Regions from separate parts of the Homo sapiens genome. Here regions 1, 3, 4, 5 and 6 are each linked to region 2. Evidence: fine-mapped expression QTL. A gene starts in region 2. Each other region holds a variant in brackets. All regions are shown on one strand. Distances are from middle to middle.

The links.
Region 1: its variant is fine-mapped to the expression of CHMP1A in visceral fat (GTEx, PIP above 0.99).
Region 3: its variant is fine-mapped to the expression of CHMP1A in thyroid (GTEx, PIP 0.95).
Region 4: its variant is fine-mapped to the expression of CHMP1A in whole blood (TOPMed, PIP above 0.99).
Region 5: its variant is fine-mapped to the expression of CHMP1A in fibroblasts (GTEx, PIP above 0.99).
Region 6: its variant is fine-mapped to the expression of CHMP1A in sun-exposed skin (GTEx, PIP 0.98).

Annotation. Positions count from the first base shown.
Region 1 is chr16:89,711,031-89,716,112 of GRCh38, forward strand. It overlaps VPS9D1 (VPS9 domain containing 1), which reads right to left. Exons shown (of 15, transcript NM_004913.3): 5 at 1,575-1,686; 6 at 1,430-1,492; 7 at 1,017-1,069; 8 at 852-939; 9 at 297-382. It overlaps VPS9D1-AS1 (VPS9D1 antisense RNA 1), which reads left to right and starts at 826. Exons shown (of 4, transcript NR_036480.1): 1 at 826-1,192; 2 at 1,659-1,788. RefSeq lists enhancers at 1-220, 1,718-1,817 and a silencer at 658-1,077. The variant C/T (reference allele first, on the strand shown) is at 2,427.
Region 2 is chr16:89,655,686-89,660,752 of GRCh38, forward strand. It overlaps CHMP1A (charged multivesicular body protein 1A), which reads right to left and starts at 2,023. Exons shown (of 7, transcript NM_002768.5): 1 at 1,897-2,023. The coding sequence starts at 1,903. SPATA33 (spermatogenesis associated 33) reads left to right here and starts at 2,151. Exons shown (of 3, transcript NM_001271907.2): 1 at 2,151-2,263; 2 at 2,563-2,736. The coding sequence starts at 2,227. RefSeq lists silencers at 1,750-1,809, 2,030-2,419 and an enhancer at 2,135-2,304.
Region 3 is chr16:89,955,481-89,960,562 of GRCh38, forward strand. It overlaps DEF8 (differentially expressed in FDCP 8 homolog), which reads left to right. Exons shown (of 13, transcript NM_001242818.2): 5 at 2,031-2,180; 6 at 3,534-3,675. Among named protein-coding and RNA genes, the nearest start is that of SNORA119, 4.6 kb to the left of the region's middle. The variant C/T (reference allele first, on the strand shown) is at 2,013.
Region 4 is chr16:89,615,061-89,620,142 of GRCh38, forward strand. All of the region lies in intron 1 of DPEP1 (dipeptidase 1), which reads left to right. Among named protein-coding and RNA genes, the nearest start is that of DPEP1, 4.0 kb to the left of the region's middle. RefSeq lists enhancers at 1-450, 451-1,153. The variant AT/A (reference allele first, on the strand shown) is at 2,979.
Region 5 is chr16:89,698,076-89,703,147 of GRCh38, forward strand. SPATA2L (spermatogenesis associated 2 like) reads right to left here and starts at 3,630. Exons shown (of 3, transcript NM_152339.4): 1 at 3,553-3,630; 2 at 2,855-3,158; 3 at 1-230. The coding sequence starts at 3,157. RefSeq lists an enhancer at 1,368-2,233 and silencers at 3,236-3,335, 3,506-4,225. The variant C/T (reference allele first, on the strand shown) is at 2,388.
Region 6 is chr16:89,746,487-89,751,486 of GRCh38, forward strand. It overlaps FANCA (FA complementation group A), which reads right to left. Exons shown (of 43, transcript NM_000135.4): 32 at 3,244-3,416; 33 at 2,173-2,281; 34 at 345-404; 35 at 98-202. Among named protein-coding and RNA genes, the nearest start is that of ZNF276, 27 kb to the left of the region's middle. RefSeq lists an enhancer at 215-384. The variant T/C (reference allele first, on the strand shown) is at 2,155.

The sequences.
Region 1 (5,082 bases), 55 kb after region 2:
AGAACGCGGCCAGCCTCGGCCTCTCCGTGGCATCCACAGGTGCCGCGCTATGCCCGGTTTCAGAGAAGCGACTTGCATTACCTCCTGACAGTGAATGTTGGAAAGTCTGCCCCCCGCCCCCGCTGGGGAGGTTGGAGAAGCCGAGGAAACGCCCTCAGCGCAAAGGGAGCTGCAGTGTCCACGTGGCCGGGCACAGGCTCCCTGTGTCAGTCCAGCCCCTCTCCGGCACCTGGCACCAGGCAGAGGTGCCCAAGGCCGGTGCGCAGGGGCTCTGTGGGGCCTGAAGGCCCAGCTACCTGAGCAGGTGTGAGACCAGGCTGGTCACGAGTGACAGGTCCCCCGGATTCCTCTTGAGCTTGGCCTTCCAGTGCTTCGGCCAGTCCTACGGGACAGGGGGCCTTGAAGGAAAGCACGGTGGGTCCGCCACGACCGGACGCGCCTCATCTCCCACCAGTGCCGACCCCTAGAGACTGTGGGAGCCCGTCCTGGGGTGCAGGAGACCCAGCGCCAGCAGGCCCCGCGACCCGCCCCCGCCCCCACCCACACCCGAGGGAAACCTTAGGCGAACCCTGGGCCTGCACCCTCGCTGGGACCCTCCCTCCTCGCAGGGACCCTCCCTCCTCGCTGGGACCCTCCCACGCGACCCCTGACCTCGCCTCCTCGCTCTGCCCCGCCCCACGCAGCCCTGGCCCCGCCCCCTCACCGGGCCCTCCCACGGGCCTCTGGCCCCGCCCCCTCACTGCCCCCCACAGCCTCTGGCTCCGCCCCCCACGGGGGCCCACCCAGGCGGCTCTGACCCCGCCCCCCTCGCTGGGCTCCTCCTACAAAGCCTGGGCCCGTGGGGGACGCACATGGTCCTGTTCGTACTCCAGGATGGCGGCGTAAAGGGCCCGCTGCTCCCGTTCCTCCGGGGTCAGGGCGACTTGGCTGCAAAACCTCCTGGGGAGAAAGGCACGCGGTGGGTGCCGGGGCCAGGCCCTCCCCGCAGCGGCCCCAGGGGCGGGCAGGAGTCCCACCTGTTGGCGGCCTCCTGGAGCCGCAGCCGGCGCTCCTCCATCTTTCTCTGGAGCTGGGTGCAGAGTCAAGGGGCCGAGCGTGGGATCTGAGCGGGCCCTCGGTTCCCAACCCCGTCCCACACCCGGAGAGGCCGGGACGTCCCAGGGACCTCCTCTCGGTGAGGGGCTGTCCCCAGGTAAGGCTTCTGGGGCAGAAGGCAGCCTGCGCTCAAGCCAGGAGGGCCGGGCCAGAGAACATGGGGGACGGCGGCCGGGCCTTCCCCTGAGACCCTGCCTCTGCAAAGCGGGGAGCCCCTCGGCCCTGTACCCCGACCCCGGAACCTCCGCTCCCCTCGCTGCCCCCTTCTCTGCCCTTGGCTCAAGGCCACACTGAGTTTCCCCTCGGGGACCACCAGGGCGGTCAGAAAGGCTGCTGTCTCCTCCCGGGCTTTGGCAATCACTAGGTTCTCCATCATCTGCCGCTGTAGAGAGAGGGTCTGGGGGGGGAGGAGGGAGTAAGGCCGACTCCCCTCTGCCCCGCGCCCACGCACCCCCAGGCCCTCCCTAGCCCCCACTCACCAGGGATGTCTTCTGCATGGCCTGGCTGGGGTCTAGCCGCGCCATTCGGGCCTCATACGCAGCCTTCAGCTTCTGATTCTGCAGGGAGGCCTCCTCCAGTGGCGTCAGCTCTCTGGAAATGTGACAAGCTGCTGTCTAGACCCCAGGAAGCCCAGTGGTGTCTGGACACCAGAGGAGTCTCTCTCATCCTCCCGGATTGCTCTGAGGCCAGGAGGTGAGGAGAAAGAGGAGGGGAGCCATCTGGGGTGGGCTGCAACATCTGCCCCTTCTTGCCTGCCCTTCCAAAACACAGGTTTTGGCCAGGTGCAGTGGCTCCCGCCTCTAATGCCAGCACTTTAGGAGGCTAAGGCCGGGCGGATCACCTGAGGTCAGGAGTTCGAGACCAGCCTGGCCAACATGGTGAAACTCTGTCTCTACTAAAAATACAAAAATTAGCTGGGCATGGTGCACACTTGTAATCCCAGCTACTCGGGAGGCTGAGGCAGAATAGCTTGATCCCGGGAGGTGATGCAGTGAGCCGAGATCTGGCCACTGCACTCCAGCTGGGGTGATAGAGTGAGACTCTGTCTCAAAAAAACAAAACCAAAACAAAAAATAACAAAAAGAAAGAAAACACAGGTTTTGGTATTGCCAGGACTTTTGGTTTTTCTTTTTTTCTTTTTTTTTTTGAGACGGAGTCTCGCTCTGTCGCCCAGGCTGGAGCGCAGTGGCGCAATCTCGGCTCACTGCAAACTCCGCCTCCCGGGTTCATGCCATTCTCCTGCCTCAGCCTCCTGAGTAGCTGGGACTACAGGTGCCCGCCACTATGCCCGGCTAATTTTTTGTATTTTTAGTAGAGACGGGGTTTCACCG[C/T]ATTAACCAGGATGGTCTTGATCTCCTGACCTCGTGATCCACCCGCCTCGGCCTCCCAAAGTACTGGGATTACAGGCGTGAGCTACCGCGCCCGGCCGGACTTTTGGTTTTTCAAGAGAAGCTGGACCACTGGACTTCTATGGAGATCCGTTATATGTGTTTGGCAACAGTATGAATCTTGTTAAAGCAAGCTTGTGCAACAATCCGAGGCTGTATGACTTCGAATGTGGCCCAACACAAATTCCTAAACTTTCTTAAAACATCACTGAGGGCTGGGCACGGTGGCTCACGCCTGTAATCCCAGCACTTTGGGAGGATGAGGCAGGCGGATAATGAGGTCAGGAGATTGAGACCATCCTGGCTAACATGGTGAAACCCCGTCTCTATTAAAAATACAAAAAATTAGCCGGGTGTGGTGGCATGTGCCTGTGCTCCAGCCTGGGTGATAGAGACTCTGTCTCAAAAAATCACTGAGGTTTTTTTGCAAAATTTTTTTTTTTGAGTCAGTCTCATTCTGTCGCCCAGGCTGGAGTGCAGTGACACAATCTCAACTCACTGCAACCTCCGCCTCCTGGGTTCAAGTGATTCTCCTGCCTCAGCCTCCCGAGTAGCTGGGATTACAGGCATGTGACACCACGCCCAGCTAATTTTTGTATTTTTTAGTAGAGATGGGGTTTCATCATGTTGGCCAGGCTGATCTCGAACTCCTGACCTCAGGTAATCTGCCCGCCTTGGCCTTCCAAAGTGCTGGGATTACAGGCGGGAGCCACTGCGCCCAGCCTTGCAATTTTTTTTTTTAAGCTCATCGGCTGTTGTTAGTGTTAGCGTATTTTATGTGTGGCCCAAGACAATTCTTCCAGTGTGGCCCAGGGAAGGCAAAAGATTGGACACCCCTGCTTTAAAGGCACTATGTGGGTCAAACAGCCAGATTAGTCTGTGACCCATGAAAGGAAGAAGTGTCCTGTCTCCTTTATACAGTTCCCAACAGCCACTCCACCTTGAAAGCTTTGTTCCCTCGTACCTTCCCACTGTCAGGGACAATGGAGGACAAGGAGGAAAGTCAGAGCCTGACGCCTGGCCACCCTGCCCTGAAGCCACATTGCAGAAACAAGGGGACTGGGAAGCCAGGCCCCGCCAGAGCAGGGGCAGGAGGAGTGGACCCTTCTCGTCTCTCCCACTTGGGAGTCACTGGGCTTTTTGCATTTGTGTCTTTGTATCTTTCATCAGTTCTAGACAACTGTCTGCCATTCTAACTTCTAATAATGCCTCTCTCCCATTTTCTTTCTTCTTTTTTTTTGAGCCGGAGTCTCGCTCTGTTGCTAGGCTGGAGTGCAGTGGCACGATCTTGGCTCACTGCAACCTCCACCTCCTGGGTTCAAGCGATTCTCCTGCCTCAGCCTCCCAAGTAGCTGGGGTTACAGGCACGCGCCACCATGCCCAGCTAAGTTTTGTATTTTTAGTAGAGATGGGGTTTCACCATGTTAGCCAGGCTGGTCTTGAACTCCTGACCTTGTGATCTGCCTGCCTTGGCCTCCCTCCCATTTTCTTTCTGGAACTCCAACGAACACGTTAGGCTTTCCATCTCTTGTTTTCTGTCTTTATTTTTTGTTTCTGTAATTCATTCTAGCTATCTTTTGACCTTTTTTCCAATACATGAATTTGCTCTTCAGCTATATCTGCTCTGCTGTTATAAACTTGTCTGCTCAGTTTTGTATGTATGGATTTCTACATATATATAGATATATAACTCATCCTTGTTCCCAGCTAAATTTTTTTTTTTTTTTTTTTGAGATGGAGTCTTGCTCTGTCGCCCAGGCTGGAATGCAGTGGCGCAATCTCAACTCACTGCAACCTCTGCCTCCTGGGTTCAAGGGATTCTCCTGCCTCAGCCTCCTGAGTAGCTGGGACTATAGGTGCCCGCCACCACGCCCAGCTAATTTTTTGTATTTTTAGTAGAGATGGGGTTTCACCTTGTTGGCCAGGATGGTCTCGATCTCCTGACCTCATGATCCACCCACCTCGGCCTCCCAAAGTGCTGGGATTACAGGCGTGAGCCACCGCGCCCGGTCATTTTTTTTTTTTTTAGACAGAGTCTCATTTTGTTGCCCAAGCTGGAGTGCACTGGCACAATCACGGCTCACTGCACCCTCAACCTGTCAGGCTCAAGTGAGCCTCCCACCTCAGCCTCCCTAGTAGTTGGGACTACAGGGGCACACCACTATGCCTAATTTTTTTTGAGACGGAGTTTCACTCTTGTTGCCCAGGCTGGAGTGCAGTGGCACAATCTTCGCTCACTGCAACCTCCACCTTCCAGGATCAAGCGATTCTCCTGGACTCAGCCTCCTGAGTAGCTGGGATTACAGGTGCACACCACCACGGCCAGCTAATTTTTGTATTTTTAGTAAAGACGGGGTTTTACCATGTTGGCCAGGCTGGTCAGGAACTCCTGACCTCAGGTGATCTGCTCGCCTCGGCCTCCTACAGTGCTGGGATTACAGGCGTGAGCCACCAGGCCGCCTGCATTTGCTTGTGTCCGGCCAGGGGATATTCCCATTCTGGGACTCATTTTAAAAACATTCGCTGTCAGGCCAGGCGCAGTGGCTCATGCCTGTAATCCCAGCACTGTGGGGGCCGGGCGCGGTGACTCACGCTGTAA
Region 2 (5,067 bases):
CACCATCTTGGCTCACTGCAACCTCTGCCTCCCAGGTTTAAGCGATTCTCCTGTCTCAGCCTCCCAAGTAGTTAGAATTACACGTGCACGCCACCAGGCCCAGCTAATTTTTGTATTTTTAGAAGAGACGGGGTTTCACCATGTTGGCCAGGCTGGTCTCAAACTCCTGACCTCAGGTGATCAACCAACCTCGGCCTCCCAAAGTGTTGGGGTTACAGGCGTGAGCCACCACATCCGGCCTCCCAAAGTGCTGGAATTACAGCCGTGAGCCACCGCGCCCGGCCTCCCAGAGTGCTGGGGTTACAGGCCTGAGCCACCACACCCGGCCTGGCCAGCATATTTTTTGTGGCGGGAGGTAGATGTTATCTTTCATCTTCTCTCAGGGCAGAAAATCTCTACACATTTCCTTCATGATGATGACACGGTGGTACTATAGCTTTTCACACTTCTAACTAAAAGAATTTTTTTTGAGACGGAGTCTCGCTCTGTCGCCCAGGCTGGAGTGAAGTGGCGCGATCTCGGCTCACTGCAAGCTCCGCCTCCCGGGTTCACGCCATTCTCCTGCCTCAGCCTCCCGAGTAGCTGGGACTACAGGCACCCGCCACCACGCCTGGCTAATATTTTTGTATTTCTAGTAGAGATGGGGTTTCACTGTGTTAGCCAGGATGGTCTCGATCTCCTGACCTTGCGATCCGCCGGCCTCGGCCTCCCAAAGTGCTGGGATTACAGGCGTGAGCCACCGCGCCCAGCCCTTCAAAAAGTATTTTTAAAAGCCTGCCCATCACACCAGCCCAACGATGTTTCAGCAAACATAGGACTTCATTTTGCCAGATTCTTCCTGTTCTTTGGTATCCCTGAGCACACAGCCGGCTAGCCCCAGATGTAGAAGGTAAGAATTAGGGCGACCCATTGAGCACAGAAACGCTTGTGCTGGCTCCTGCTCAAACCTCTGCTTCCCCACATGGAGAATGGACGCAAAGAGCTGCTGTGACCAGGGCCTGGCACTCAGGGAGCGCTTTCTGTCTGAGTCCTTCTGATTTGCAGTGATGCTGTTTGGGGCAGGGGGTGCAACTGTCACTTTTTCTGGTGCCCTCTGACCCGACATTCCAAGTCCCGAAAGGCCGAACAGGCATCGCACAGTCCCCCCTACCGAGCTGGCGGGAAAGGGCGCCTGACGCTGAGGAGTGCCAGGGGCGGGGGAAAGGGTCCTGGGTCGGTGGTCGGGGGTCCAGGCCCTGGGCAAGGGGTCCTGGGTCGGGAGTCTAGGTCCCGGGTCCATGGTTGGGGGTCAGAGGTCGAGGCCCCGGGGAAGGCATACCGGGTTGAGATTTGGGGATGGAGGCCCCGGGGAAGGGGTCCCGAATCGGGGGTCGGGGATCGAGGCCTGGGGGGAGGGGTCCCGGGTCGAGGGTCGAGGCCCGGGGTAAAGGATCTCGGGTTGGGGGTCGGGGGCCTGGGAAGGGTCCCGGTCGGTGGTCGGGGGTCGAGGCCCGGGAGAAGGGGTCCCGGGTCGGTGGTAGAGGCCCTGGGGAAGGGGTTCCGGGTCGGGGATCGAGGGTCGAGGCCCGGGAAAAGGGGTCCCGGGTTGGTGGTCTAGGCCCTGGGGAAGGGGTTCCGGGTCGGGTATCGGGGGACGAGGCTCGGGAAAAGGGGTCCCAGGTCGGTGGTCGAGGCCCTGGGGATGGGGTCCGGGTCGGGGATCGGGGGACGACGACCGGGAAAAGGGGTCCCAGGTCGGTGGTCGAGGCCCTGGGGATGGGGTCCCGGGGGATCGACGGTCGAGGCCCGAGCTCTCCTGAGTCCTGCCCGCGGCCCCAGGTGGGCGGAGCCCACGCCAGTGGGAGAAGCGGCCCCGCCCCGCGCGCGAGTCCCCGGAGGACGGCCGCGACCTCTTACCGTCCATGGCCACAATGACAGGAGCAGCACTCGGAGAGGGAGAAGGGACGCCAACTCCGGGCGGTGTCAGGTCCCGGCGGCGATCGAACCGACCAAGCTGCACCCGGCGGGGACTTCCGGGGTCGCCGCCCCACTTCCGGTCGCACGGGATGCTCTCGCGAGAGGATGGTGGCCGGTCCCGCCAGAGGGGCGGGGCGCGGCTGCGCGGCGCGCGGTCGCCATGGTGACGCACGCCGCTGGCGCGAGGACCTTTTGTGAGTCGCTCCCGGCTCCGCGGCCGCGGAGGTGTGGGGACCCGGGCTTGCGTCGGAGGGGGCGGTGGGCTCACCCATGGGCCTTTCCAAAAGCAAAGAGAAACCCAGGAAAGGTAAAGGAGGCGCAGGCGCTGGGCTCCCCGCGTCTCCGCCCCTGGGCGCGGGCCCAGGGCGGGGCTGGGCTGGGCGGGGCGGTGTGAGCGCAGGCGCCAGGCTCGGCCCGGTGCGAACCGTTCCTGCCGCCGAGTCCGCCACGGACGGCGCGTTTCCCGCCTGAGGCGGTTACGGAAACGCGGAGACTCGAGACTTGAAGCCAGCTTATTCTGGACCCACGCAGGCGACTGAAGACGATGGGACCCACTGCCCTGCATTCGGTAAGTCCCGGGTCTAACGGATGATCCATATATTTCAGGTGAGGAGCAAAAGAAGGGATCCACCTATTCAGTTCCAAAATCTAAGGAGAAGTTGATGGAGAAGCATTCCCAGGAAGCCAGGCAGGCAGACAGGGAGTCGGAGAAGCCTGTGGACAGCCTCCACCCGGGGGCCGGGACAGCCAAGCACCCGCCGCCGGCAGCTTCGCTGGAAGGTAGGAGACGGCGGGAGGGAGCGAAGCGAGGTCAGTGGCTTGGAGGATCTGGGGCTGGGGTGAGGAGCCTACTGTAAGACCCTACCGGATGGACACTAGTAGCAGGCACGCGCCGTAAAGATGAAACTGGTTTGTTTTGGGAACTTTATGTAGGAGGTAAATATCCAGAAATCTTAGTTGAAAACATAAGTTTAATGAAAATGTAGGTCAGTTCCCGAGTGATAAGTGCGTACCAGGTGGTCGAGGGGCTGGGGCAGTGTGCGTGTGTCTCACCTGAGGTTCTCCTCGAGGGCTGGGTATCTTGGTGCCACTGAGAATCCCTGAGCCTCCGCACACTGGAACAGAGCATTGGGAGGCCGTCCCAGGCTGGACTGTAGCTCTCCGAGGGCTGTGGGGATAAGTACATTGCGGAGGGTGACCGAGGAGTAGAACCTGGGTGCGACAAAGGTGTCTTTTATAACAGCCTAGTGTGGCCAGACCTTTGGGTGTGTGTGGGGAAGATGAGGCCCCAAAAGTAGGAAGAAGCTAGAATACAAAGTTTTCCATCAGTTTTACCACGTGGAGCTGGAAGCGTTAAATATTTTAAACAACGGAGGTGCTGCCTGGGGCGGTAGTTCACACCTGTCCTCCCAGTTATTTGGCCGAGGCAGGAGGATCTTTTGAGCCCAGGAGTTCAAGACCAGCTTGGGCAACATAGTGAGACCCTGTCTCTACAAAAAATAAATATTTAAAAATAAAAAACAAGGGCGGCATGATGAGGTCTGTGCCTACCAACAGGGGAAGCCAGTTCGCAGGGGAGGTGGCCCGGTCAGAGACCCATTGCTGTGGCCCAGTGGGAGCCAGCAAGGCCTTGCAGTAGGAATTGCAGAAGGGTCAGGCAGGGAGAACCCGCAGAGCCTGCCGTCCGAGGAGATTGGGGGCCTGTGCCAGGAGGAGGTGTTTTAAGTTTCATCACAAGAATGAACCACTCGGCTGGGCGCAGTGGCTCACGCCTGTAATCCCAGCACTTTGGGAGGCCGAGGCGTGTGGATCACTTAAGGTCAGGAGTTCAAGACCAGCCTGGCCAACGTGGTGAAACCCTGTCTCTACTAAAAATACAAAAATTAGCTGGGCGTGGTGGCATGTGCCTGTAATCCCAGCTACTCAGGAGGCTGAGGCAGGAGAATTGCTCGAACCTTGAACCGGGACCCGGGAGGCAGAAGTAGTGGTGAGCGAGATCGCACCACTGCACTCCAGCCTGGGCTACAGAGTGAGACTCTGTCTCAGAAAAAAAAAAAAATAATAAGGAGAGAACCACTCGGGTCAGACAAGAAAGAATGTCAGGGGGATGACTGGCCTGCTAGGCAGAGGAGCTGGGCCTGGACTGCTTCACACTGACACGCTTGTAGGATCAAGGGCTGAAAGTAGGAGGCTCTGGGCCTTGGACTTGGAAGAAAGACTTGGATTTGAATTCCCAACTTTGGAACCTCCCACTGGAGGGTGGAACCCCTCACAGGAGGGCGCAACCCCCCACCGGAGGATGGAACCCTGCAGGAATAGCATCACCCTTGGGTGGCAGTTTGGAAAATGCTACCTGTCTGTCACGGTGCTTTTAGCTGAAAGTTACAGAAAAGCTCACTAAACGCAGCTTTAACACAGGGATTTAATGTCTCACGAATGAAGGGTCAGAGGTGGAGCTTCCAGGTTGGCTTGTTAGCACAACAGTGACATCAAAGACTTTGCGTGTCTCTTCTTGACCACTCTCAGTGTCCACAGCCCCCGATGAGTGTACAGCCCCCCACACGCAGGCAGGACTGCATCTACTGCAAAGGCATTGCTCCTTGCTTCATATTAGCAAGGAAACCTTTCCCAGGAAGGCTTCGCCTGCCCAGCCTCTGCAGGACTCATTCAATGGTGCAAATTCACCAGGGGCTGGAGGGAGCTGTGAAGCATGGGAGTGGGCAGGACCTCTGCCAGTAACGGAAGTGGGGGAAGGAGGACCGCCTGTTGGAAGGGCCCCAGCAGTGTCTGTCACACCAGAGGGTGGGGGAGGAAGGTGGACATGAAGGGAAAACAGCAGAGCAAGAGTGAGAACAGAGTTTCAGCAGATAAAATGAAGTGTGCACGCTCTCCATGCAGTGACGGGCTGAGCGACAGTGAGGAGCAGGCTGCTGACTCCCTTGCCACACCGTGAAGGAGTCCCAAAGGTGGGACACTGAGTGAGACAAGCCAGAGGAAAGACCACTCATGTTGCAGTTCCCTTTCCATGGAATGTCCAGAAAAGGCACATTTACAGAGAGAAGCAGATGAGTGGTTGCTGGGCAGAAATGGGAGCCGGCCACAGCTGAGCAC
Region 3 (5,082 bases), 300 kb after region 2:
AGAGCCTGAGTGAAGGCAGGTGGAGAGAGCCTGGGATTGGGGTTCATGAACCTGGGGCTGCTTCTGTCCCCTGAGCTCCATGTCTTCATGAAGCAAATGTGCAGAGAATAGATTCCCTCTGGGGTCCTTGAGGTCCTGTACACTTGCCGAGAGTCAGGGTGTGGGAGGCAAGGGGAAGCCCCTTGTCTGCCTCGTACTGACCAGTCGGTATTACAGGGCCACTCTTGTTTGTTCCGTGTTTTGTTCCATGGAAGCCTTGTGTTGAAGAAGAAAAGGGGGAGGATATAATGATTTTTTTAAAAAAGTTTGAGGCCGGGCGCGGTGGCTCACGCCTGTAATCCCAGCACTTTGGGAGGCTGAGGCGGGCGGATCACGAGGTCAGGAGATGGAGACCATCCTGGCTAACACGGTGAAACCCCGTCTCTACTAAAAAATGCAAAAAATCAGCCGGGCGTGGTGGCACATGCCTGTAGTCCCAGCTACTCGGGAGGCTGAGGTAGGAGAATGATGTGAACCTAGGAGGCAGAGTTTGCAGTGAGCCGAGACTGCGCCACTGCACTCCAGCCTGGGTGACAGAGTGAGACTCCGTCTCAAAGAAAAAAAAAGTTTGAAAACCTTTTATTTTTATGCAAACCATCTCCAACTTTTGAGGGAAACATTACGGCAACATTCAAATGTAACTTTGAAAGGATTTGGGCCAGACGTGGTGGCTCACGCCTGTAATCCAGCACTTTGGGAGGCCGAGGCGGGCGGATCGTGAGGTCAGGAGTTCGAGACCAGCCTGACCAACATGCTGAAACCCCGTCTCTACTAAAAATACAAAAAAAAATTTAGCCGGGCATAGTGGAGCGCCCCTGTAGTCCCAGCTACTCAGGAGGCTGAGGCAGGAGAATCGCTTGAACCCGGGAGGTGGAGGTTGCAGTGAGCCGAGATCGTGCCGCTGCACTCCAGCCTGGGCGACAGAGACTCCGTCTGAAAAAAAAAAAAAGAGGGAGAGACTTCATATATTTGTTTCGTATCTTATTTTTTTTCCTTTTTCTTGAGATAAGGTCTCGCTCTGTTGCCCCCGCTGTGAAGTGCAGTGGCGCAATCATGGCTCACTGCAGCCTCGACCTCCTGAGCCCAAGCGATCCTCCCACCTCAGCTTCCTGATTAGCTGAGACTACAGGTGTGCACTACAATGCTCAGATAATTTTTCATTTTTTTTTTATAGACACGGGGTCTCGCTCTGTTGCCCAGGCTAGTCTAAAGCTCCTGAGCTCAAGTGATCCACCCACCTCGGCCTCCCAAAGTGCTAGCATTATAGGTGTGACCCACTGCACTCAGCTTGTTTTGTATATTACAACATTTTGAGCACTTCCTTTGGGCCACAGGCTGAGCTGCAAGGGGGAGGGGAGGGTGCCACCTCCCCTTTGCCTGGGTCTCAGAGCCCAGCAGCCTGGAGGAGGAGGATGGCTCCTGAGGGCGGGGTCCAGGCTCCCCAGCACTGAGACCTGATCCTGTCTTCCCCGGGATCCCCAGAGTGTTCTGAGTCTGGGGCCTTGCTGGGCCGTGAGCCCCCTGGTCGCTATGTGGCGAAAGCAACCAGAAGTGCTGGGGCTGGCTCTCGGCATGTGCTTGGGCTTGGCAGTCAAGCTCGAGGCCACTTACTGTCCTTCATGACAGCAAATGTCCTTTCCCTAGCTTTCCTCCAAGAGGAAGCTCTTCAGAAGGAAGTGAAGTGACATAACAAAAAAGCATCTGGATTTCTCAAAGAAGGAAGTTGTCTTTTGAAAAGCAACTTTCAAACATTAGGTTTTCAGAGGTCTGTGGGCAGGCAGGTCAGGCTAGGAGCACGCAGCACCGGGTGGACCTTGACCGTGCTGCCACCTTTCCTGCCCTGGAGCAAGTCCTCGGTGCCCTCTGGGTTGAGTTTCCTTCTCTGGGTGAGGGGTGTCGGGGTCTGCTCTGGGCCTGTCTCGGCGGATGGGCCTTAACAGGGAGCTCCTGCAGGATGGGCCTTTGACTGCCCC[C/T]GCCCCCAACCTGGGCAGGGTCTGTTCCTGGCCTCTGACGTCCAGCAGCTGCGGCAGGCGATCGAGGAGTGCAAGCAGGTGATTCTGGAGCTGCCCGAGCAGTCGGAGAAGCAGAAGGATGCCGTGGTGCGACTCATCCACCTCCGGCTGAAGCTCCAGGAGCTGAAGGTGGGTGTGGGGCCGCCCCGCCGTGGGGCAGCCTGGGGCCGAGGCCAGAACTGTGGAACTAGGAGGACCCTGCCAGCCTCTGGCTCTCTCTCAGGCGGTGGTCTCTCTCTCGGCCTCAGGGGCTGAGGTAGAAGGGCACGAGACAGGCAGGGTGGAAGACGGGCCCTCACCCCACTGCGGGAGGTTTCCCTATTAGCCTAGACCCTCCTGTTGCAAGGAACAGAAACTCAACCCTGAGTAGCTTAAGCCAAAAAGAAAAATGTATTTGCTTGGTGACTGGAAGATCCTCCAGTGTCAGGAATCTTGCTCTCTTCCAACTCGACTTCCTGTGTCTGATCCAGCCTCAGGCAGGCCTTCCCTGTGCGGTGGCAGAGACGGTCCCGGCAACCACATCTTGCTTTCCAGGAGCTGAGCCTCCCTGTGCAGATGACAGCTGCCTTTTCACAGTGGTTATAGCAGGAACCTCAGGCCTGACTTTCATTGGCCAGTCCTGACCGGATGACAGTGGCTGACTGGCCAGTTCTGGGTCATGTGCCCACCCCTGACCCAATGACAGTGGCCGATTGGCTAGTTCTGGGCTGTGTGCCCGCCCACTGACCCAATGACGGTGGCCGATTGGCTAGTTCTGGGCTGTGTGCCCACCCACTGAAGCAAGCGGGTGGGCTAAGTAAGTTCCTCCCTGAGTGAGCCACATGGACAAGGACGGGTGGTGTCTTGAAGGTGACAACAAAAGAAGGTGGTGGGTCCCAGGCCACAGATGTTCCTGATGCAGTCCTTGGGTCTGTGTGTGCTTTGGCCTGGCTGCCCTGTGTCCCCTGTGCTGATTCAGGTATCCCTGGGAATGTAGAAAGTAGAATATTCATGAGGAAACAGGTAAATTGGTGGTAAGAAAAAAAAACCCCAAAACATAGTGGCTTAGAGAAGATGTGTTCGTTTCCTCACGTAAAAATCCCATAGGTGGTCTGGGGCCTCTATGACAGCTAATGGTGTTGGGGAGGGCCTCCTTTTCCATTGCCCTGCACCTAACCGGCAAAAAGCAGGAGGGGCAGAGAGGCCGGGTCGCTCCCGCTCACATGCCCATGGCCCGGTGCAATCCCACACAGCCCCTCGCTGCAAGGGATGCTGGGAAAGGTCGCAAGGGATGCTGGGAAAGGTAGCATGTGACCTTGGCGGTCCTTGTCCAGCTGATCATTGTTTACTGTGAAAGGGAGAAAAGGGACATGGCATTGTGCTGAAACTCACAATCTCTGCCCTAAATGGTGCCTGGAAGAAATAAGTTGAGGGGCTTGTGCGAAGGGAAAGGAACTTCAGCCCAGCTCACCTGTGACCCCCTCCCTGACTCACCCTCTGCAGGACCCCAATGAGGATGAGCCAAACATCCGAGTGCTCCTTGAGCACCGCTTTTACAAGGAGAAGAGCAAGAGCGTCAAGCAGACCTGTGACAAGTGTAACACCATCATCTGGGGGCTCATTCAGACCTGGTACACCTGCACAGGTGGGCCGAGACCCAGACGAGGAGTGAGGAATGAGAGAGACCAAAGTTCCTGCCTCCGCTGGGCTCACATTCAGATGTGAGCTATCCAGTGTGGTGGCCACTAGCCAAACATGGCCAGTCAAAGTTAAATTAACTAAATATGCATTTCCTCGTTGTACTGTCTACATTGGACAGGGCTGTTCTGGATGAGAAATTAAACTAGTGAATTACATGGTGTGTCTAGTTTGTACAATGAAGAAAAAGGGAAAGGACCTAGCACGTGTTAGGGTGGAGTGAATGTGACTTTAGGGCAGAATGTAAAGGCATCACGTGACTTTGTTTTTTGTTTTTGTTTGTTTTTGGTTTGGTTTTGTTTTTGAGACGGAGTCTCACTCAATCGCCCAGGCTGGAGTGCAGTGGTGCAATCTCAGCTCACTGCAAGCTCCACCTCCCGGGTTCACACCGTTCTCCTGCCTCAGCCTCCTGAGTAGCTGGGACTACAGGTGCCCGCCACCACGCCCGGCTAATTTTTTGTATTTTTTTTAGTAGAGACGGGGTTTCACCGTGTTAGCCAGGATGGTCTCTATCTCCTGATCTTGTGTTCCGTCCACCTCGGCCTCCCAAAGTGCTGGGATTACAGGCGTGAGCCACCACGCCCAGCCGGCGTCACGTGACTTTTAAGCAAAAACTTGAAGGTCAGGGAGCAAGCCAAGACAATATGTCTGGAGGAATGTTCTGGTGGGGGCAGCCCTGTGGTTGATGTGTCCAGTGCCTTAAGGAGGAGCAGAGAGCCAGGTGTGGCTGCAGCTTTGTGTCTGGAGGACTGTTCCGGTGGGGACAGTGCTGTGGTTGATATAAGGAGGAGCAGAGAGCCAGGTGTGGCTGCAGCTCTGTGTCTGGAGGAATGTTCCGGTGGGGGCAGCCCTGTGGTTGATATAAGGAGGAGCAGAGAGCCAGGTGGGGCTGCAGTTCTGTTTCTGGGGGAGGTGGGCTCAGAGGTGGCTGGGGCTTTTCTTTAAGTGCAGTGGGGGCCACAAGTGGGTGCTGGACATACTTGAGCTTTAATAGGTTACTGTGGCTGCTGACTGAGCTTGGACTGAGAGGGAGGTGACTGAGAAGAGGGGGATGACTCTGATTGGGCTGGGGTAGGTGGTGGGAGTGAGGAGTCGCTAAGGGCAGTCCAGCTGAAGGTTTGGAAACGGAATGTAACAGATTAGAAAATAGTCTGACTGAGTGCGGTGGCTCACGCCTGTAATCCTAGGGTTTTCCAGTGCAAAGATGGGAGGATCGCTTGGGCCCTGGAGTCTGAGGCTGCAGTGAGCTCTGATTGCACGACTACACTCCAGCCTGGGCAAAAGAGCAAGACCCTGTCTCTTAAAAAGTACAAAAACAACAACAACAAAAACAGAGAGAGAGAAACCCTTCAGG
Region 4 (5,082 bases), 41 kb before region 2:
ATGGGTGGAAGGGGGCATCTAGGGCCTCCAAACGTGGAAGTGTCTCTAAAATACCTCCCGCTGGGCCTCAGTCTCCTTGTCGACAAAAGGTCAGCTTTGACAAATCTCCAGTCGGAGGCCAGGAGCAGACGGGGAGGGTCCCTCAGTCCCTGCTTGCAGCTTCAGGGGGACGTAGGCTGCGGTGGACGGACACTGAGCCCCAAAGCGGCCTCTCAGAGCCGCCCCTGAGGGGTGGCCTCACAGGTCGGGCTGAGGCTCCCAGCTCCCACTGGGTACAGAGCGGGCAGGCGGGCCTGGCAGGGCAGTGGTGCTGGTCTACACGCAGCTCTGGAGTCTCTGGACCTGTGTCCTGTGCGTACATCCTGGCTCCATCTCCCATGAGCCAGGGGGCTGGACCTGTCTTCTCTACCTCAGTTTCCAAGAGTAGGAGACAGGGGTAACAGCAGCCTTGCTCTCAGGGGTGAGGGCGTGGGTTAAAGGGCAGGACACCCATGGAAGCAGTGGTGGCTCCGAGCACCTGCTCAGCCTTCCCAGGTCTTCAGAGCCCACAGGCAGAGCCCACCCTGAGGGAGGAGCAGCTGGTTCTTGGGTGAAGTGAGCCCCCAGGACCCCGCCTTGCAGGACCCCGCGAGGCCCCGGTGAACTGGAGCCGGGAACCGGCCCCACGGAGGCACGTTGGGATTTGGCCACCAGAGGGCAGGAGCTGCAGCAGCCAGGCAGGCGGTCAACACGGGGGCCCCGGGGTCCTGGCCGGCTGGTGGGGTGTGAATTGGAGAGGAGTGGGCTGTGTGGAGGGAGACCAAGCACCAAGGCCCGCCCTGGCCTCTGAGTGTCCACCCCTTTCACAGGCCCATTTCACAGATACTGAGGCCCAAAGGCGCAGGGCTCAGGCGTCCCCTACGTGTCGTGTCCCCAGGCAGGAGAATTACTTGAACCTGGGAGGCAGAGGTTTCAGTGAGCTGAGATCACACCACTGCACTCCAGCCTGGGTGACAGAGCAAGACTTCATCTCAAAAAAAAAACACAAAAAGTGAATTTAAAATGCTCCCTGAACTCCAGCTGGGGTGCGCAGCAGGAGGCTGGGTCCGTGGGGCTTCGGGGGCTGGGCTGGGGGTTCAGGTGGGTGGGGGAGTCAGTGCTGTGGGGATAGGGCTCAGAGCCCAGAAACAGACAAGCCCACACAGGTAGCCAGTGTCGACGAAACAGGAGAGGCTGGGACCTGTGCCCTGGAAGGACACAGCCAGCGGGTCCTGGGTCACCCACTCCGGGGCTGACCGGGCACAGTTTCACAGAGCAGTATGGCCCAGCCAGCTGTGAGAGGATCGGACAGACGGGCGGAAAGGAGGGGAGACAGCGGGTGTGCTCGGGGCTGTGCCGGGAGGGGTCCTTGGATGGAGGAGGGGGTCGCCAGGAGGCATCTGCATCCCCGGGGTGGTGAAGACCCAGCGTGTATGGCCGACCTCGAGGACAGGGCGATTGCTCCACCAGAATGTTCCCAGATGGCACAGATGCTTCTGGTTCTGGCACTGGGACCTGCAGCAGGATTCCCGGGTGGCTTAAAGAGGTTCCTTGAAGTTTGTGATCAGGAATTCAAAGTAGCGCAGATTGGGACGGCTGGGCCTTCTCCCCTCAGCACACTCCGCGAAGGGCAGTGCAAACGCACGCTGGCAGGAAGTGGCTGGGAAGCAGGCAGAGAGCGACCAGGAAGCGGCCAGGAAGCAGGCAGGAAGTGGGCAGGAAGCAGGCAGAAAGCGGCCAGGAAGTGGCCAGGAAGCGGACAGGAAGTGGCCAGGAAGCAGGCAGGAAGTGGGCAGGAAGCGGCCGGGAAGCAGGCAGAGAGCGGCCAGGAAGCGGGTAGGAAGCGGGCAGGTTTTACCGAGCGGCGTGACGGCTCCAGAGGGGATGATGGAGTCTGGCAGAGAATGGGGCGGGAGGCTGGAGGTCCTGGGCAGGCCCTGGAGCAGAAGGGGAAGGGAGGGGTGGGGTGATGGGACTGCAGTGAAGGTCTGGCCCCACCCGAGCAAGGTGAGGGTAGCACAGGTCATTACATGTCAGGGAATTGCTTGGCCAGGGTTGGGGACAATTCTCTCTTATTAGAATTGCCAGGAATCAAGACAGGGTGGAGCTAGAACAAGGGAGAGGGAGTGGCAGAGAGATGGGGTGCTTGGGGCTCTCATGTGATGCCCTGAGGACACTGCATGAAGACTCACGGCTGAGCTGGGTGGAGGTGGGAGAGGTAGGCAGGCACCAAGGCCCAGGGCCCTGAGAGGTGAGGGGAAAAGCGCTCCTGCCTCACGAGGCCACAGGAGCTCCCTCAGCACGGTGCCTGCATGGAAGAATTGCTCAGCTAACATGAGCTCTGAGGCTTGCGCACATGTTACAGAGAATGAGGTGGAAGCATCCACGCCAGGAGGTCTCCAGGCCATCTGGTCAACAGAAAGCCAACAACATGCAAAGGACAGGAGCCCACACCTGTGCCGGTCTGTGCCAGAAATGCTGGAAGGCGGCCGGGCGCGGCGGCTCACACCTGTAATCCCAGCACTTTGGGAGGCCGGGCGCGGCGGCTCACACCTGTAATCCCAGCACTTTGGGAGGCCGGGCGCGGCGGCTCACACCTGTAATCCCAGCACTTTGGGAGGTTGGGCACGGTGGCTCACACCTGTAATCCCAGCACTTTGGGAGGCCGGGCGCAGTGGCTCACACCTGTAATCCCAGCGCTGTGGGAGGCCAAGACGGGCAGATCATTTGAGGTCAGGAGTTTGAGACTAGCCTGGCCAACATGGTGAAACCCCATCTCTACTAAAAATACAAAAATTAGCTGTGTGTGGTGGCATGCACCTGTAATCCCAGCTACTCGGGAGGCTGAGGCACAAGAATCACTTGAACCTGGGAGACGGAGGTTGCAGTGAGCTGAGATTGTGCCCCTGCACTCCATCCTGGGCGACAGAGCGAGACTCAGTCTCAAAAAATATAAAAAA[AT/A]AAAAATAAAAAATCATCATTCTAAGTCAAGAAAAATTAAAATTTTAAATTATTAGCATGTATTTACCATTTATCTTCATATTGTGTAATACTTGGCTTAAATGCAAATAGAATAGGATTTAACTCATACAGAATCAACAAAATTGTACAATTCACATTTTTATTTTAATTAATTTATTAGTTTGTTTATCCATCTTGACAAGGTCTTGCTCTGTCACCCGGGCTGGAGTGCAGTGGTAGGATCACGGCTCACTGTAGCTTAAACCTCCTGGACTCAAGCCATCTTCCTGCCTCGGTCTGCTATGTAGCCAAGACCACAAGTGTGTGCCACCACGCTTGGCTAATTTTTATATTTTTTGTAGAGATGGGGGTCTCCCTATGTTTCCCAGGCTGGTCTCAAACTCCTGGCCTCAAGCGATCCTCCCGCCTTGGCCACCCAAAGTGCTGGGATCACAGGCATAAACCACCAGGTCTGGCCTACATTATTTATTTATGCATTTAGTTTTGAGACAGGGTCTCACTATGTTGCCCAGGTGGGAGTGCAGCCTCAAGCTCCGAGGCTCAACAACCTTCCCACCTCAGCTTCCCAAGTAACTGTGACTGCAGGCACACACCAGCCTGGCTAGTTTCTTTATGTCTGTAGAGACGAGGTCTCCTTGTGTTGCCCCGGCTGGTCTCAGACTCCTGAGCTTAAGTGATTGCTGCACTGTTCCCCGGGCAAAGTTGCACAATTCGCATTTTGTAACTTATAGATTAATATTTATTTTATTTTCACCAGAACGGTAGGAACCCTGCACAAAACTGGTTTTATTTTGCTCTTTACGTACGCACATCCCACCAGCACCCTCTACCTTTGGCTTCCGGAGGGTTGCCCTCCCTGCTCCCTCCCTGCAGCTCCCTGCCCCCCTGCTCCCCTCCCTGCAGCCCCCCTGCCCCCCCGCTCCCCTCCCTGCAGCCCCCTGCCCCCCCCGCTCCCCTCCCTGCAGCTCCCTGCCCCCCTGCTCCCCTCCCTGCAGCCCCCTGCCCCCCCTGCTCCCCTCCCTGCAGCTCCCTGCCCCCCTGCTCCCCTCCCTGCAGCTCCCTGCCCCCCCTGCTCCCCTCCCTGCAGCCCCCTGCCCCCCCGCTCCCCTCCCTGCAGCTCCCTGCCCCCCCGCTCCCCTCCCTGCAGCCCCCCTGCCCTCCCTGCTCCCTCCCTGCAGCCCCCTGCCCCCCCACTCCCCTCCCTGCAGCTCCCTGCCCCCCCGCTCCCCTCCCTGCAGCCCCCTGCCCCCCCGCTCCCCTCCCTGCAGCTCCCTGCCCCCCCGCTCCCCTCCCTGCAGCCCCCTGCCCCCCCTGCTCCCCTCCCTGCAGCCCCCTGCCCCCCCTGCTCCCCTCCCTGCAGCCCCCTGCCCCCCTGCTCCCCTCCCTGCAGCCCCCTGCCCCCCTGCTCCCCTCCCTGCAGCCCCCTGCCCCCCTGCTCCCCTCCCTGCAGCTCCCTGCCCCCCTGCTCCCCTCTCTGCAGCCCGCTTTCCCCCTGCTCCCCCCGCTCCCCTCCCTGCAGCCCCCTGGTCCCCCTGCTCCCCCCGCTCCCCTCCCTGCAGCCCCCTGCTCCCTCTGCTCCCCTCCCTGTAGCTCCCTGCAGCCCCCTGCTCCCCTCCCTGCACCCCTTTTGCCCCCTGCTCCCCTCCCTGCAGCCCCCTGCACTCCCTTCACCCCCTCCCTGCAGCCTGCTGTGCCCCCTGCTCCCCTCCCTGCAGCCCCCTGCACCCCCTCCCTGCAGCGCCCTGTGCCCCCCACTCCCCTCTCTGCAGCCCCCTGCGTCCCCTCCCCTCTCTGCAGCCCCCACTGTTCCTCCCACTGCTGCCCATCATTGGCTGCTTGAAAATGTCAGACTCCAAGGGCCCCTGTGACTAGCCCAGCAGCAGCCCTAGGTCTCCACCCTGCCTTGGGTGGGGTCCGGGATAGGCCTGGCCTCCCCCCGCCTGCTTGAACCCACTGAGTATGCCCCCCTCCCGCCGCAACCTCAGAATTCCAAAGCCAGCCTGGTCTCCAGCTCAGTGCGGTCCACACGCAGACCCTCCTTGGATTTCGAAAGCCCGTGTGGCTTTGCCAGAGGACATTCCA
Region 5 (5,072 bases), 42 kb after region 2:
GGCAGCACACTGGTGCCCAGCTGGGCCAGCACCTCACCCAGGATCTCACACTCCAGCCGGAGGGCGAAGCAGCCCAGGGCCACCTGCACCAGCTGGCAGGCGGGGGGCAGGGCGGTCACCATGAGCCGATGGCTGTCTCTGCGTACGTAGCCCATCTTCTGGAAGCTCTTCAGGAGGAGGTCGTCTGAGAGCACACCCTTCAGCACGTGCACGTAGCCCCCAGAGAAGGTCTGCAAGGGAGCGGCCAGGTCAGTGACTGCCCACCCTCCCATAGGCCAGACCCTAGGGTACAGTGGGTCCGGGATCTGTTGGCTCAGGCCTTGGCAGCTTCTGATGCTCAGACCCAACCCCAGAGACTAGGCTTAGCCAGCTTGGGCCAGGCCCAAACATGATGATTTCTTTTTTTTTTTTTTTTTTTTTTTTTTTTTGAGACAGAGTCTTGCTCTGTCATCCAGGCTGGAGTGCAGTGGCTCCATCTCAGCTCACTGCAGCCTCTGCGTCCCAGGTTCAAGCAAGTTCCCCTGCCTCAGCCTCCCGGGTAGCTGGGACTACAGGCGCCCACCACCACACCCGGCTAATTTTCATATTTTTAGTAGAGACAGGGTTTCACCATGTTGGCCATGCTGGTCTCAAACTCCTGACCTCAAGTGATCCGCCTGCCTTGAGCTCCCAAAGTGCTGGGATTACAAGCGTGAGCCACTGTGCCCGGCCTAGAATTTTTTTTTTTTTTTCTTTTTTGAGACAGAGTCTCGCTCTGTCTGGAGTACAGTGGCACGATCTCGGCTCACTACAACCTCCTCCTCCCGGGTTCAAGCGATCTTCCTGCCTCAGCCTCCTGAGTAGCTGGGATTACAGGTGCGCACCACCACGCCCCACTAATTTTTGTATATTTAGTAGAGACGGGGTTTCACCATGTTGACCAGGAAGGTCTTGATCCCTTGACCTCATGATCCACCCACCTTGGCCTCCCGAAGTGCTGGGATTACAGGTGTGAGCCACCGCACCTGGCCGAATTTCTTAAATTTAATGGAAAAAACAATGAATACATTAACCTAGCTCACAAATCAGAACAAAATGAAGAGCCCCTGTACTGAGAAATTCCACTGTCTTCTGTCCCACCGCTCCCTTCACCCCTGGAGATGGCCTCATCTAATTAGTTTTGAATGTACTTGCCCAGGTGTTTGTTTTGCAAACCCAAATACAGATTTCGTTTGCTCCTCGTATGAGGTAGTCCCCCCTTTTTTTTCACCTCTTTGTAAGGTCTCTAACCAAAGCTAGACAGGTAGCCTCTTAAACGTGTTGTTCTGAACTTTGTTTTTTTCCACTACAGTCTTGCAGACAAGGACAGAAGCTGTAACGTTCATTCCCCCTGCTGTGTAGTATTCCACCATGGGGGTGACACGTCTGTTTTCAGCGCTCTCCAGAGGCTGTCCATGCACTGGGCTGACAGCCGTGGGACGGTAGAAGGGTGAGTGCTCTTTTTTTTTTTTTTTTGAGACGGAGTCTCACTCTGTCACCAGGATGGAGTGCAGTGGCTCGATCTCTGCTCACTACAACCTCCACCTCCCAGGTTCAAGTGATTCTCCTCCCTCAGCCTCCTGAGTAGCTGGGATTACAGGCGCGTGCCACCACACCCAGCTCATTTTTGTATTTTTTAATAGAGACGGGGTTTCACCATGTTGGTTAGGCTGGTGTCAATCTCCTGACCTCGTGATCTGCCCACCTCGGCCTCCCAAAGAGCTGGGATTACAGGCGTGAGCCACCGCGCCCGGCCTGGCTGAGTGCTTTCTAGCCTACACTTAGGTGAAGAACTAAAGGAGCTCAGGACAATCACTGCGAGCGTCTCCTGACTCTCAAATTCCCTAACTCCGGGACTCCTAGCATCTAATGCCTGGACACGGCCCACGTGTGGAGCGCCCAGTGCCTGCAGCACTGAGCTCGGGGCTTTGATTCATTCCTCTGGCCCCATGAACTGGACTGTTCCCGTGTCGCTGTCTCAGGAGGAAAGGGGCTGACAGAGATTAGCTAATTTGGCCAAGTCCTCGCGGCCAGGAAGCAGCAGAACTAAGTCCAAACCAGGGCTGTCCGGCACTGAAGCCGGTTATTCCCCCGCCCCGCCCCCTGGGAGGCCTCAAGGGCGGGCCTGTCCGTCCTCTCTCATGAATGAAAGTCCTGGCGCCTCCGACCAGCAGGTGTCCCCGGGGAGCCGCGGAGAGACTGCCGCTGCCATGGCAACCGGCGGAGGCGTAGCTCGCCCACGTGCCCAGTGACGTCATCGGCTTCCTACTCTTCCGAATTAGCTCAGAGCTCCCGGCGGCCCTGCCCCCTCCTGCCGCCAGGAGCTCACCTGGAGAGGCCAGGCCAGCCCTGGGCACAGCCTCCCGCCC[C/T]AGGCCGTGGAGTTCACTAGGTCTGAGCCCAGCCCTGAGACTTCACAGGGATGCACCCATCTGCAGTCCTCCCAGCCTCGGCGGCCTCCTCTGCAAATGGGATTGGCCCATAACCTGGAGGAATTAGGATGACCATGGGAACTCAAGTCCCTTCTGTGCCCCCGTCCTAAGATTTCCATGGCAACTGGGGCCGCGAGGCCTCTTAGGGAAGACACTGACGCAAGCTCTCAGGGCAGGACCCCGTAGGCAGCACCCAAGCCTGCCCTCGCCCACCCCATGTTCTCAGCCCTAGGAGTGGGTGCCCCCACACGCCCACGACCCCTCAGCGCTCGGAGCCTTGAGGAGCCCACCAGGCACTGAGGACACTTGAAGCCCCTCTCTCTCGAAAGGCGTGGTCCCCCATGGTCGGCGGCCCCGCGACCCGCAGGCCAGGACGAGGGGCGCGCTCCTCCTGGCCTGGCGCCTACCTTGATGGTGGTGAACTCCTTCCTCCAGGGCAGCAGGTACAGGTGCACCGCGGCGAGCTCCAGAAGCTCGAAGGCGCGAGCCAGGCCGCGTAGCGCGGGCGCCAGGTCGGCGCGGCCCCACAGCCCGTCGGTGAGCAGAGCCAGCGCGTCGTCCTGCAGCGCCCCGTGCAGGTCGAAGTCCTCCACCAGGATCTGCCAGAGCACCGCGCGCAGCGAGGGGTCCCCGCACACGCCCGCGCGGCCCCGTCGCAGCTCGCGCTCCAGGCACTGGCGGTAGTCCTCGGACAGCGAGCTGCTGCCCATCCTGCGGCGGACGGGGGTCGGGGGGGTCAGGGACCTAAGGCCGCGCCCAGCCCGCCGCGCTCTCCCCGAACCCTCACCCAGCGTCCCCAGGACCCCTCGAGCCTGGAGACCCCGCCCCCAGCGGCTGGGCGCCCCCGGTATCTTCGGCACCCCCTACGCTGGAGACCTCGGCCCCATCAGCTGCCCGCCCACCCAGCGATCCAGGCCCCTCCAGTTGAGCGCCCCCGCACCTCCAGCCCCTCCCTCCAGCCTGGGTACCTCGGCCTTCCAGGGGCGCCCCCGGTTATCGACCGCACCCTTCTCTAGAGACGCGCTTCCGCCCGCTGAGCCCTCTCCCGACCAGAGCCCCTTCGCCCGGCAGATGGAGCTGCGGATCCCGCGGGTGACGGCGCTACCTGTCTGTCCCCAGCGGTCTCCGGCCGCCGCGGATCAGTTCGGGCCTCCCCGCGCGCCGCGCGCTTCCGCCGGGAGTCGGCTCCGCCCGGGGTCCGCGGCCGTGACGCTGGGGGCGGGGCGGGGCTTGGCGCAGGCCCCGCCTCCGAATAATTTAGGAGGGGCGGGGCCTGGTGAAAGGGGAGGAGGAGGTGTCAGCCCGGCCGAGCCCCTGCGCGAGGCACCCCGAGAGCCTCCTGTCACCGCGTCGCCCGTCTCCTCGCGGGACCGGTATCGTTCACGACGCCGCTGGGCCGAGGGCTGCGGGCTCATGGCAGGCGCTCAGGGAACGTTGTGCCTGGGCCGCTCCTCCCCACGAGACAGGGACCCAGCCCCAGGCGACCCGGCCGCGGGGAAGCAGGTGCGCGGGCTCGTCCCCTGGGGGGTGGGGCCACCGGCATTACCTGGCGGGGATTGGCTGGATCCTGGGAAGAGCCTTTCCTGCGGGGCGGGGCCACCTGCATTACCTGGCGGGGATTGGCCGGATCCGGGGGCGGGCCTCCCCTGTGGGGCGGGGCCATCCCCTTGAGGGAGGGGCCCGCGGCACGGAAGGTGGGCGGAAGGACAAGCCTTTCAGCCTCGTCTGAAACAGCAGCCTCAGGTGGATGCGGGGACCTCAGATTCTGTTTATGCTGGCTCCGCTTCCCGGCCTCCTGCACTTGCCATCTGCAGCCCTTGAGAGCATCGTCTGGGCGGGTCTCTGAGGCAGGGCGAAGCCGCCCCCCTCTCTAGGCTAAAAGCTGACCTGGGCTGCGGATCCACCCAGGCTAAATCTGGGCCACGACTTCCCGGGGACGTTTTCTTCGCTCGGGTTCCTCTGTTCTGTGCTACAGCCACTTTCTCGCATTGCCCAGAAGTAGAGGAGGATGAGGGAGACCCTTGGAGGTCCCAGCCGAAACCCACCCCTACCCCACACCCCCGCTTTGGGCAGGCTTTGCTACTTCACGTCTGTGTCCCTCATCTCTCCAGGCCACCAAAACCAAGGCCCAAGTTTGTTGAAACTTTCCCTGGGCCTGGGCGGCGAGGTCCCCCCTTTTTCTTAGATTTTTTACCTGGAAGTTCCCTGCTGGCATCTTAGAAATAGTGATCATGACCGGGTGCGGTGGCTCACGCCTGTAATCCCAGCACTTTGAGAGGCCGAGGCGGGCGGATCACCTGAAGTCAGGAGTTCAAGACCAGCCTGGCCAACATGGTGAAACCCCGTCTCTATTAAAAATACGAAAGTTAGCCGGGCGTGGTGGCACATGTCTGTAAGCCCAGCTACTTGGGAGGCTGAGGCAGGAGAATTACTTGAACCTGGGAGGCAGAGGTTGCGGTTGCAGTGAGCTAAGATCGTGCCACTGCACTCCAGCCTGGGTGACAGAGCGAGAATGTCTGGAAAAAAAAATCGTGATGCAGTCGGTGGATCTCCCTGAGTTATCTAGGTGGCCACCTCTGGACAGGGAGCTCTTTTACTTACTGTTTACTGAACTCACTCTTGGTG
Region 6 (5,000 bases), 91 kb after region 2:
CACCCGTGATGGAGACGTGCTGCAGAGATGCCAGAGGCAGCTGTGGAGTCTCCCACTCATCCCCAAAACAAAACACCAAACAAGACAGCTGACCCACCAGAGCAGAGGTCAAAATTAAGGGGCATTTCGTCTGGCACTTGGCCAGTATGAAGTCGACCATCAGGGAGGGGTCTCTGCTCCGCAGACAGGCGTTCAGGAGGCCCTGCAGGAGAGAACGCAGCAGGAGGTCAGCGGTTTGTGAGGACCCACAACTAGTAGAGTGAAGGAACTCACAGGAAGCTGACAGGAGGATCCACCCACGGCGTTCTGAGAAGGCCACGAGAGGGGCTGAGGGAGCATCTCACCCTGAAGAAGTGGGCAGTGATGTCCTGTGTCAGGGCACCTCCGTGGGAGCAGAAGTTTCTCTGCAAAAGAGTTCAAGGCAGGTAAGAAAAGCCCACAGGAAGAGAGGCGAGACCAACATGCAGAGTGGCTGCTGTGGATTCAGTTTTGAGAAAAACACTCGCTAAGGCTTGGCGTGGCCACCATGGATGGTGCTCCTGGGCTGACCGGGCCTGGCGCCCTGGCTGTGCTGTCCTGAAACTTAACGGCTTCCCTGGGCGGCCAGATCCTGCAGCCCACCAGCTCTGGCCCAAACAGTCTTGTAGGCTCCAGGAAGAAGCCAGGGAGGCACAAGCAGCCGCAGGGAAGGGGACGCACCCGGAGCGTAGAACTGTGGTGAGGACGACACTAATACCAAGGGCCAACCATCCTCTGGTCCCTTCACTAACCAAGTGCTGTCTATGGTGTTTTCCTGTCTGTCGGCTGTCACGTGCCAACTGAGAGCTTTCTGAAAAACAGCCATTCATAAGAATTCAAAGGAGACCATAGTGATTTTCTGAAAGCTTTTGCTAGTCTCACGTCCTCTGCTTTCCTTGTCACATTTTGAAGTGCTGCACAAGGCCGGGCTCACACCTGTAATCCCAGCACTTTGGGAGGCCAAGGCGGGTGGATCACGAGGTCAGGAGTTCAAGACCAGACTGACCAACATGGTAAAACGTCATCTCTACTAAAAATACAAAACTTAGCCGGTCATGGCGGCAGGCACCTGTAGTCCCAGCTACTCAGGAGGCTGAGGCAGGAGAATCGCTTGAACCTGGGAGGCGGAGGTTGCAGGGTGAGCCAAGATTTCACTGCTGCACTCCAGCCTGGGCGACAGAGCAAGACTCTGTCTCAAAAAATAAATAAATAAATAAATAAATAAAAATATAAAATGCTGCACAGCTGGCATGGAACCTGAATTCCATCTCTCACATTTGTGCATCTTCAAAAACAAGAAAAAGGCCTTCGGGAGCAGAAGCTGCTCTCTGTAGAGTGGGAGGGGCTGGTATCCGTCTCCCCAGCTCTGACCAACTGGGTCCCTACGCTGCCCGTCCCCACAGCGAGTGTCACTTCTTTTTATTTGAGACAAGAGTTTCGCTCTGTCACCCAGGCTGGAGTGTAGTGGTGGGATCTTGGCTCAGTGCAACTCTGCCTCCTGGGCTCAATTACTCCTCCTGACCCAGCCTCTCAAGTAGGTGGGAGTACAGGCGTGCACCACCATACCCAGCTAATTTTTCTATTTTTTGTAGAAACAGGGTTTTGTCATGTTGCCCAGGCTGGTCTCGAACTCCTGGGCTCAAGTGATCCCCCACCTTTCCAGAGTGCTGGGATTACGGGCGTGAGCCACCGCACCCAGCCTGCTGGTTAAGATCACCCTGCAACTCACGCTGGGCAGTGTCTAAAATGGAAGATAACTGGGCTGCCTGGCAGGCAACAGCGGTAGTCAGATCACCACAAGGCTTTTTTTACACATGAAGCATGTTGAGATTAGAAATAAATGAACCGAGGTGCGTGGCACACAAAATGGTCTGTACGATTCCATGTGTCAAAATCATTAAAACTTGAGGGAAACTAAAGGAACTCAAACTTGGGAGAAGGCAACCTACAGCTGGTTTGGTGATGTGCTGGTCGCCGTCCTGGCTGTGGGTGGGGTCCTCCCTCACATGGCATTCCAGACACTGTTCCCTATTTGACTTTGAACCCTTTCCTCAGTAATTCACACGGTCAGTACACGCATGGAGGCTGCAAGAGCTGCTGTTAGCGCCACAGGCACTGACAGATCGGACGGACACG[T/C]GCACACGGGGCACCTACCATCTCAGAGTTGACCAAGTGGAAGAACTGCTCGCATCTGGCAGTGATGGGCTGTTCTGCCTGGAAGCTGCTGCCGCAGAGGACAGACGAAGGCAGGCGGAGGAGGATCCTGGAAAGAAGGGGCTGTATTGGTGGCGACAGCACAGCGTACACTCTGCTCCTTCCCAAGGGCTCAGACTCTCAGAGCAGCAACCACCACCCTGAAACCCAGGGCCACTGTTGGAACCAGAGCCTTGGCCTGTGTCCCTCTGTCCCATCCAAAGCCTGCACTCTGAGCCCACCTCCCCTATACTGTGTTTGGCCCACTGCATTCAAAATGTGTTACCAAACAAACAACTTTTAACAGTTACATAATAACCAACAACTTCTGACAGTTACACGATAACCAAGTGGATGACGCACCAGTCTGTCTAGTGAAGCAATTCCCTATGACTGTAAAATTAAATGACTCCACGCTGCTTCTTATAAATGCAGCCGCCGTGGGCATTTCTGAACACTTTTCCCTACTTTCACAAGAGCTCCTTCTGCGACGTCCCTCCACGTCTGAGCAGGAAGGTTTTGTTGTTGTTGTTGAGACAGAGTCTCGCTCTGTTGCCCAGGCTGGTGTGCAATGGCGTGATCTCGGCTCACTGAAACCTCTGCCTCCCAGGTTCACACCACTCTCCTGCCTCAGTCTCCCGAGTAGCTGGGATTACAGGTGCCCGCCACCACACCTAGCTAAATTTTTTTGTATTTTTTTTGTATTTTTAGTAGACATGGCGTTTCGCCATGTTGGTCAGGCTGGTCTCAAACTCCTGACCTCAGGTGATCCACTCACCTCAGCCTCCCAAAATGCTAGGATTACAGGCATGAACCACCTCGCTTGGCTGGAAGGTTTTAATCAAAAGTACTTTCAACCCTCCAGATCCTCTTCTCCGTGGCATGTGCCACAGAAATGGACAGGCTTGGGGTGGGGACACACAGACAAGTAAGTAACGGGAAACAAACTCACTACAAAGAACCTCTAGGACCGTCATGAGATGCTGCCCTGCCCAGGTGGTGCTGCCCTGCCCAGGTGGTAGTAGGTGTTACCGTTTGTACATTAGCAGCTCCCTCTGTCTCTGAAGGCTGGCAGCCACGCTCCACCCGCTTGTCAGAGCCTGGAGCCGTCTGCGGAAAATCTCAAAGAGGAAGTGCTCCTGGGAAGGGGTGTGGCCGAGAGGCACTATGAGGTCTTGCTGCAGCTCCAGGTCAGCTACCATCTCCTGAAAAAGAGCAGTATGCTGGCACAGGAAGGCCTCGGGGCTCACTGCCCAGCCAGTCGGGGACCCAGACGTCAGGGGTCAGGGAGAGGTCTCCACAGTGGACAGGGCAAGAAGGAACAAGTGGGGCAAGCTATTTCAATTGGAAATCACTTTGAAATTGCAAATATAGAACAGTGCAGGCCGGGTGCTGTGGCTCACGTCTGTAATGCCAGCACTTTGGGAGGCCGAGGCAGGCAGATTCCTTGAGCCCAGGAGTTACAGTACTACTTATCAACTACTTATCAATTAAGAAAAAACAGCTGGGCGTGGTGGCTCATGCCTGTAATCCCAGCACTTTGGGAGGCCAAGGCAGGAGGATCACGAGGTCAGGAGATGGAGACCATCCTGGCTAACATGGTGAAACCCTGTCGCTACTAAAAAATACAAAAAAATTAGCTGGGCATGGTGGCGGGTGCCTGTAGTCCCAGCGACTCAGGCGGCTGAGGCAGGAGAATGGCGTGAACCCGGGAGGTGGAGCTTGCAGTGAGCCCAGATCGCACCACTGCACTTCAGACTGGGCAACAGAGTGAGACTCCGTCTCAAAAAAAAACAAACAAAAAAAAACAGCCAGGTATGGTGGCTCACGCCTGTAATCCCAGAACTTTGGGAGGCCAAGACAGATGGATTACCTGAGGTCAGGAGTCCAAGACCAGCCTGGCCAACAAAATTAGCCATACAAAAATTAGCTGGGTGTGGTGGCAGGCGCCTGTAATCCCAGCTAATCAGGAGGCAGAGGCAGGAGAATAGTTTGAACCCGGGAGGTAGAGGCTGCAGTGAGCCAAGATCCCGCCACTGCACTCCAGAGCAAGACTCTGTCTCAAAAACAAACAGACAAAACAAAACAAAACAACAACAAAAAAAAACAGCAGGAGGACACTCATGTGCCCTTCACCCAGATTAACCTCTGGCTAACATTTTACCCCACACATCATTTTTGCCTCACAAGTCTTTTGTTGTTGTTGTTGTTGTTAGGACAGTCTCAGTCCGGTTGCCCAGGCTGGAGTGCGGCAGTGCAGTCTTGGCTTATGGCAGCCTTGACTCTCGAGCTCAGCTGATTCTCCTAAGTCAGCTTCCTGAGTAGCTGGGACTATAGGTACACACCACCATGCTTGACTAGTGTTTTGTATTTTTAGTAGAGATGGGGTTTCACCATGTTGGCCAAACTGGTCTTGAGCCCCTGACCTCAAGTGATCTAGCCACCTCAGCCTCCCAAAGTGCTGGGATTACAGGCATAAGCCACCGTGCCTGGCCGGCTGTATTTTTTAAAGAAGAATAAAGATCAGGTGCAGTGGCTCACGCCTGTAATCCAACAATTTTGGAGACCGAGATGGGTGGTTCACTTGGGCCCAGGAGTTCGAGACAAGCCTGGGCAACATGGCAAAACTCCGTCTCTACAAAAAATCAGCTGGGTGTGGTGGCGCACACAGGTGCACGCTGTCAGGATTGCTTGAGCCCAGGAAGTCAAGGCTGCAGAGAGATATGATCGCACCACTGTACTCTAGCCTGGGTGACAGAGCAAGACCCTGTCCCAATAATAATAATAAT